Linked DNA regions of Homo sapiens: region 1 is linked to region 2. Evidence: fine-mapped expression QTL. A gene starts in region 2. The other region holds a variant in brackets. All regions are shown on one strand. Distances are between the middles of the regions.

Region 1 (4,268 bases), 25 kb after region 2:
TTAGTACCTCATTAAAAAATTTTTTTTTAAATTTTCTCAGAGACCTTTGTTCTGAAGTACCTCACTTTTAATTGACAGCCAAGGATAATTAGACAAGGAAAGTTTTCTAAATGAAAGAGAATGCTTTCAGCATACTTTCTTCCCCCCAGATTTTGTTTTTACTACCCATGGCCGACGACGGCTTGGAATGTAAGCCTGGAGAGAATTCATTCCAATGCTGGGATTATAAATATCTGGGAGGAAGAAGTGTGTCCTGACAGTGGTATCCTCACTAATGTCCAAAAAACATCTTGCTTTGAAAGCTAGACATGTCATTTGTATCCCGAACTTCTACTTCTTTTTAAATTGAATTTCATTTTAGATTCAAGGAGTACATGTGCAGGTGTGTTACATGGGTATGTTGTGTAACGCTGAGGTTTGGGCTTCTAGTGAACCCGTCACCCACATAGTGAATGTAGTACCCAACAGGTAGGTTTTCAACCCTCAATCCCTCCCACCCTCCCCACTTTTGGATTCCCCAGTGTCTGTTATTCCCATCTTTATGTCTTTGTGTACCCATTGTTTAGCTCCCACTTATATAAGTGAGAACATGCAGTATTTGATTTTCTGGTTCTAAGATATTTCACCTAGAATAACAGCCCCCAGCTCCATCCATGTTGTGAGGGACATAATTTCATTCTTTTTTATGGCTGCATAGTATTCCGTGGTATACATATACCACATTTTCTTTATCCAATCAACTATTGATGAACACTTACATTGATTCTGTGACTTTCCTGTTGTGAATAGTGCTTCCATAAACATATGAGTGTAGATGTTTTCTGGTTTTTTTTTTGGAGACAGGGTCTTGTTTTGCCACCCAGGCTGGATCATAACTCACTGCAGCCTCCAACTCAGCTCAGTCAATCCTCCCATCTCCGCCTCCTGTGTAGCTGCCACTACAGGGGCATGCCATCATGCATGGCTACTTTTTGTATTTTTTTGTAGAGATGGCATTTTGCCATGTTGTCCAGGCTGGTCTGGAGCTCCTGGGCTCAAGCGATCTACCTGGCTTGGGCTCCCAAAATTCTGGGATTACAGGTGTAAGTCACTGTCCCCAGCACAGGTGTCTTTTTGATAAAATGATTTCTTTTCCTTTGGGTAGATACCTAATAGTGGGATTGCTGGGTTGAATGGGTGTTCTATTTTTAGTTCTTTGAGAAATCTCCATACTGCTTTCCATAGGGGTTGAACTATTTTACATTCCCACCAACAGTGTACAAACGACAAATTTCTACTTCTGCATGAGGCTGTGTGGGTCCTCAAAGAGAATCTCAAAACTTAGAAAGCATAGTGCTGAGCCACCCAGCTCTTTTCTATCAAGTTTCTTAGCAATGCAGTATATAAATACTATCCATTTTCCAAGTTGATTTTATAGTGCCGTGTTCTATCTTCAGAAATGATAAGGACTCCACGTTCCACCAGTTCCCAGGGCTGCAACCCCAGATCCTTGGGGATGTTGCCATGTGATAGCATTTCTCCAGCTCTGCAGGAAAGCAGTAGCACATCTCCAGGGCTAAGGATTCCCACAGTGCCCTACTCCCCTCCTTGCCCCCCAGGAAAGTGAGGAGCGTGGGCAGATCGCTGAGGGTTTTCTGATCAAAAGCAGTCACTGTCTCTCATGTAGCAACCCTCAGATCGTTTCGTTACCGGACAGGGGTCCCGATCCAGACCCAAGAGATTGTTCTTGGATCTCATGCAAGAAATAATTTGGGGCAAGTTCATAGAGTCAAGTGAAAGCAAGTTTATTAGAGAAGTAAAGAAGCAAAAGAATGGCTACTCCATAGGCACAGCAGTGGCCTGGGCG[G/A]CTTGACTAAGGATACTTACAGTTTTTTATTGAATGTAAGCTAAACAAGGGGTGGATTATTCATGAGGTTTCTGGGAAAGGGGTCCAAAGTTACCGGAACTGAGGATTCCTCCCCCTTTTTAGACCACATAGGGTCACTTCTTATTGTTGCCATGGCATCTGTAAGTGGACACGGCGCTGGTGGGCGTGTCTTTTAGCATGCTAATGCATTATAATTGGCGTATAATGAGCAGTAAGGACGACCAGAGGTCACTTATTATGCCATCTTGATTCTGGTGGGATTTGGCTGGCTTCTTTACTGAAACCTGTTTTATCAGCAAGGTCTTTGTGACCCGTATCTTGTGCCGGCCTCCTATCTCATCCTGTGACTTAGAATGCCTGTCTTCCTGGGAATGCAGTCCAGTAGGTCTCGGCCTTATTTTACTCAGTCCCTAGTCAAGATGGAGTTGCTGTGGTTCCAGCGCCTCTGACAGTTTGTCTTCTCTACTTTATTTTTTGTAGGGGGTAAGGGGTGTCTCATTTTGCTGCCCAAGCTAGCCTTGAACTCCTAGGCTCAAATGAGCCTCCCTCCGCAGCCTCTCCAAGTGTTGGGATTACAGGCATGAGCCACCACACCTGGCCTGTCTTATCTACTTTAAAGCAGTTTTCTTGTAGATTGACCCTCTGAATTCAGGGTCTATTCAAGTGAGGGCATCTTCTTTTCGGGTTGTTTGTTTTTGTTTTTTGCATGGTAAGAAGCGTGGGATAGGCCGGGTGTGGTGGTTCATGCTTGTAAGCCCCAACACTTTGGGAGGCCAGTGGGTGGATTGCTTGAGTTCAGGAGTTCGAGACTAGCCTGGGCAACATGGCGAAACCCCGTCTGTACAATACAAAATTTAGCCAGATGTGGTGGCTTGCGCCTGTAGTCCCTCTAGTCTCAGCTACTCAGGAGGCTGAGGTGAGAGGATCGCCTGAGGCCAGGAGATTGGGGCTGCAGTGAGCCAGGATCGCGCCACTGAACTCCAGCTTAGGCGGCCGAGTGAGACCCTAAGTCAAAAAAAAAAAAAAGAGAGAAAAGAAAAGAAGCAGGGCTGACTGATTAGGACAGCATTTCTTTTGCCGCCAGCTGAACTGCGGCGTCTAGAGTTCCCGGCCATAATTGCAAGAATTTATCGAAAAGCTTTACATGTTTTCTTGGTTTTGGTTTTGTTTTGAGACAGAGCCTCACCCTTTCGCCCACCCTGGAGTGCAGTGTGCGATCATAGCTCACTGCAGCATCGACCTCCCGGGTTCAAGCGATCCTCGCTTCATTCTCCTGAATTGCTGGGACCACAGGCGCGCGCCATCGCGCCCGGGTATTTTTTCGTTTTTGTAGAAATGGAGTCTTGCCATATTGCCCAGGCTGGTCTCGATCTCCTGGGCTCAAGCGATCCTCCCGCCTCGGCCTCCCAAAGTGCTGGGATACAGGAGTGAGCCACCGCGCCCAGTCGCAGTACACTAAAAGTATTTATTCGGTCCGCGTCCCCCGCCTGCGGGTGCAGGGATGGCGGCTCCAGGCTGGAGGCGGCTGGGGGCCCGGCCAGTGCGCCAGGAGCCGCAGGAACGCTAGTGAGCCGCGCGCTGGGCCGGCAGCTGGGGGTTATTTTAGTGCGCGGGGAGGGGGCGGCCCGCGGCGGAGCGTAGGGTTGAGCGGCTTCCCCCGCACTGGGGTGAGAGCCCAGAACAGGCGGTAGAGCCACCCCACCACCCCCAACTCCATTCCCCGCGCTCGCTGCGGCTGGACGTGAAAAGCCGGTCTCACGCTCTGGGGAGTTAGTCGCCTTCCACTGGGACCCTCAGACGAGTGAGCGAACATGAAGTCCGGTCCTGGCATCCAAGCCGCCATCGACCTCACAGCGGGGGCCGCAGGGGGGACAGCGTGTGTACTGACTGGGCAGCCCTTCGACACAATAAAAGTGAAGATGCAGACGTTCCCTGACCTGTACAAGGGCCTCACCGACTGCTTCCTGAAGACATACGCTCAAGTGGGTCTCCGGGGCTTCTACAAGGGCACCGGCCCGGCACTTATGGCCTACGTCGCCGAAAACTCGGTCCTCTTCATGTGCTACGGGTTCTGCCAGCAGTTTGTCAGGAAAGTGGCTGGAATGGACAAGCAGGCAAAGCTGAGTGATCTCCAGACTGCAGCCGCGGGGTCCTTCGCCTCTGCATTTGCTGCACTGGCTCTCTGCCCCACTGAGCTTGTGAAGTGCCGGCTACAGACCATGTATGAAATGGAGATGTCAGGGAAGATAGCAAAAAGCCATAATACAATTTGGTCTGTCGTGAAGGGTATCCTTAAAAAGGATGGCCCCTTGGGCTTCTACCATGGACTCTCGAGTACTCTACTTCAAGAAGTACCGGGTTATTTCTTTTTCTTTGGTGGCTATGAACTGAGCCGATCGTT
Region 2 (4,268 bases):
GCCAGGAAGACGCAGGAGACCGCGGCCGCCGCCACCACCAGGTACAGAGTGAGGTCCGAATCGTTGGGTTTGGCGGAGGGCTCGAGGCTGCCCAGGTCGGCCAGGATGTCGGAGATCCTGTCGGCCACGGCCACGGTGAGCGTGACAGTGGCGGAGAGCGGGGGCTGGCCGTGGTCCTGGACGGCCACCACGAGACTCTGCTTGAGCGCGTCTCTGTCCAGCAGGGCTCGCGCCGTGCGCACCTCGCCCGTGTGCAGACCCACCGAGAAGAGTCCCGGCTCGCTGGCCTTGAGCAGGCGGTAGGACAGCCAGGCGTTCTGGCCCGAGTCTCTGTCCACCGCCACCACCTTGGTCACCAGGTAGCCGGGCTCTGCGGAGAGGGGCGCCAGCTCCACGCCGGTAGAACCATCTGTGGGGAGGGCGGGGTACAGGATCTCGGGCGCGTTGTCGTTCTGGTCCAGCAGGAATAGGCTGAGAGACACGTTGCTGCTGAGGGGCGGATCCCCACTGTCCCGCGCCATCACTTTCAGTTGCATGTCCCGGAACTGCTCATAGTCGAAGGATCGCAGCGCATACAGGACCCCAGTGTCGGAGTTGATGGAGAGGTAGGCAGATAGGGGTGCCCCCTGGATAGTGTCCTCTATTAGGGAGTAAGTGATTTGTGCATTCTCATTGCTGTCCAAGTCGTGGGCCCTCACAGAGAAGATGGAGGCTCCTCTGGGGTTGTTTTCGGGAATGTAGGCAGAGTAGGAGTCCTGATGGAAGACTGGGGAGTTGTCATTGATATCTGTCACTAGTAGTGAAATGTGAGTTTCAGTAGATAGAGCTGGAGTTCCTTGGTCTATTGCTGTTATTGTGATGTTGTACCCAGAGATAAGTTCTCTGTCCAGTGTTCTTTCAGTCACTAAACGGTAATAATTATCAACTAACTTTTCCAATTTAAAGGGTAAATTTCCAGGAATGAAACATGTGGTGTAGCCATTGTCTCCTGAGTCCTGGTCATGCACACTGATAAGAGCAATTATGGTCCCAGGAGGAAAGTTTTCTGGAACTGCAGTGGTGACAGAGGTGATGGTCACTTCTGGGGCATTATCATTTACATCCAAAACTTTGATCAGTACCTTAACTTTAGCCATGAGCCCCGCACCATCCTGGGCTTGAACTTCCATTGAATACATTTTGTATTCTTCGAAATCTAGTGGTTCTTTATTTGATATTTCTCCTGTGTAAGAATCTAAACGAAATATTTGGGCCACTCTGTGGTCTACATTGTGAAAGGAGTACGTTACTTCCCCATTGGCTCCCTCATCAGGGTCAGTGGCATTTACCATGAGCAGCTGAGTACCCAGCGGCACGTTTTCGGGGACATTTATATGGTATTGTGCCTGAGTAAATGCTGGAGGATTGTCATTTGCATCCACCACCTGAATGTAAATTCTGAGGGTCCCTGAACGGACTGGTTCACCCCCATCAGAAGCTGTGAGGATGAGGTGGTGGACAGCTTCTTCTTCTCTGTCTAAGGGACTCTGCAGCACCATCTCTGGATGTTGAGGCCCATCGGCTCCCTGTTGCACATCCAGGGAGAAATGAGGGTTAGAGCTGAGTTGGTAGCTCTGGAGTGAGTTCATACCCACATCAAGGTCTTGCCCAAAAGGCAATGAGACTCTGGTACCTGGAGTCGTTATTTCATTCATTTTAAACTCCAGTTCCTCTAACTGGAATTGGGGAGTGTTGTCATTAATATCAATTATTTCTACTTCAACAGGAAAAAGCTTCATTTTATCCTCAACAAGGATATTAAAACTCACGAGACACGGCATGCTCTGAGCGCAGAGCTCCTCCCGGTCTATCCTGCGCGCGGTGATCAAGCTGCCACTTCTAGGATTCAGAGCGAAAAGCGGCATCCTACCTCTGGAGACGATGCGGACTCCGCCATCTGCCAGCTCCTGGGGTTGCAGCCCTAGGTCCTTGGCGATGTTGCCTACGAAGGAACCTTTGTCTGTCTCTTCCGGCACTGAGTAGTGAATATTCCCAGCCCCAGCTTCCAACAGCAGCTCCAGAGAAAGACACAGAAGCATCAGCCTGCTGCAGCCAGTCAGCTTTTTCTGAATCTTCATGGCTCTCTCACTTCGTAGTTTTCTTCCAGTCCAGTACCAAGGGTATCGTTTCTGCTTTTCTGAGCTGAAATTAACCCAATTTTCAGGAGAATTCTGACTGGAGAGTCATCCAGAAGTAGGATTTAGGCAGTCTTGGACAGTCAGTTTTCAATCTGGCGGTTATGGAGGTTCTAAGAGGCACGAGAGCTTTTTTCTTTTTCTTTTTTTTTTTTTTCCTCCTCCTGACCTGTGTGTACTGCCTGTATCTACCAGATTAGTGAACAGCGGCGCCCACAGTCCTAACCAGTTACTGCATTCCTAGCAAATACTGAAAACCTTCTCATTAACTTGTTATTTTCTTAAGTTTTAGTCTATTGTCAAGGAAATAATTCTACAATATATGTATGAAAAAGAGAAACTATATGTTCACTTCTTTAAATGTGCCTAAATGTCACCAAATTGAAATATACAGGAGAATCCAAGTATTCCCATGTTATCTGCTTTCCAAGTTTGCTATTCAGGGAATTATAGTAAAAACCTAACATTACAATGAGGACAAAATCATCTCTCCACTTTTTCTGTAGTAAAGTTTGACCACTTGGTAATTTCCCAGGCCACATAGAGCAGCTCCCCTTTGACTGGAGGGTGAAAAGTATTAGAGGGAAAAATAATCTTTTAGAATATAAGCTAGACTTTAAAAAAATCATACCATCCCATTTCCTTCCCATTATGATTTGAATATTTATCAGAAACCTTGGGATTTTGAAGAGCATGGTTTAACCCTATCCTTATTTTTCCTCTTTTTTTTTTTTGAAGTGTCTTTGCATTATGTGGGTTTTTAAAAAATTCTTAAGATTCACCAAAGGCAATATATTTTGAAAAAAATAAAACTGGGCTCTTGGAATTTCATTGAAAAGTCACATGAATATATAATTTAGATTTCAAATTTCAGAGACAAAGTCTATGATATTATTCTTCACAGCTGAAAAGAAAAATGGTCTCATCTTTATTTTTAGATAGGCTCTTATAATATGTATTCCTCTATAATCGCACTTAATATTTTCTCCAAGAGAAGTTGGTTTTCTCTTAACAGTATTTTTTAACCAGTTGAGGATGTGGCCTTCTTTTTTTTTTAATCACTGCACTATTAGCAAAGGGTTACTAATTAAAATGTCTCAGGCTTAGAGTGACTTACTTATCTTTACCCCAAAGTTAGAGAAGCATGCTATCTGTACTCCAGAGTCTGATAATTTCAGGAACAAATTCGGCCAGCCAACCCATGGACACCATGACTGAGAAAAGTTAAAAATGAGGAAAGAAAGAAAACAATGAAAGGTCTCAATAATAGTTTTTGGAAAGAGAACTTTAGTTCTTAACCAAATCTACAGTTTCTCAGCTTCTCAAAGACAAGTACATGGAGCCAAAGAGTAGAAATTTAAAGGTGCAATAAATCATCTTCAATATTGCAAGGAAGTAACTCTTTAACAGAGAATGTAACTTTTCAGAATACACATTAATAGGCATAAACTTTTCCCCAAAGAAATTGTGAGCTAATGAGGTAAATTAAAATATACATAAGAACTAGTAAGTAAACCTGTAGAGCTCCCTACTTTCAGCAACCAAAAACACGCAGGAGTGATTTATAAAAGGATGGTAAGTATAAAATAAAAATGTTAAAATATCACACAAATACATTTGAATCAAATGCAACATTTAAAGCTTCATTGCTGCCCACACACAGTGGCTCACGCCTGCAATCCCAGCACTTTGGGAGGCCAAGGTGGGCAGATTACTTGAGGCCAGGAGTTTGAGACCAGCTTGGTCAATATAGTGAACCCCGTTTCTACAAAAACAAAAATAAAACAAAGCTTCATTGCTGGCACTGCAGAGAATACCTGGTTCAAAGCTGTTTCTTGAGTTAAAGAAATTAAGATTTTAAAAATATCTAAAACCACACATACGTTGTAGGAACAGGGCAAATTTCCTTTCTTTAAGTTGGAGACAACTCCATATCCGGGCTTGGACCAGAGATCCAGCTGAAAACAGCCCCAGGCAATGGAGCTATAGGGGGCATTGCAGGTTCAGAGAGATGGCCAGAGTCACACTGAGGAGAAACAGCATGGAGATCAAGGCAACGGCCATCGCCAGCTGTTGGGTGCTGTCTGCTGCCTG

Which allele goes with the higher level. Positions count from the first base shown, and alleles are read on the strand shown. Sizes are in standard deviations (SD) of each study's normalised expression.
With allele A in place of G in region 1, the expression in cerebellar hemisphere of the gene that starts at base 2,288 in region 2 is higher (moderate effect, 0.66 SD a copy in GTEx).

Evidence for each region. PIP is the estimated chance that this variant, and not a neighbour inherited with it, causes the effect.
Region 1: its variant is the best candidate, but not a certain one, in a credible set for the expression of PCDHGA1 in cerebellar hemisphere (GTEx, PIP 0.68).

What each region holds. Positions count from the first base shown.
Region 1 is chr5:141,303,276-141,307,543 of GRCh38, reverse strand. It overlaps SLC25A2 (solute carrier family 25 member 2), which reads left to right and starts at 3,495. Exons shown (of 1, transcript NM_031947.4): 1 at 3,495-4,268. The coding sequence starts at 3,679. The variant G/A (reference allele first, on the strand shown) is at 1,847.
Region 2 is chr5:141,328,534-141,332,801 of GRCh38, reverse strand. It overlaps PCDHGA1 (protocadherin gamma subfamily A, 1), which reads right to left and starts at 2,288. Exons shown (of 4, transcript NM_018912.3): 1 at 1-2,288. The coding sequence starts at 2,117. It also overlaps PCDHG@.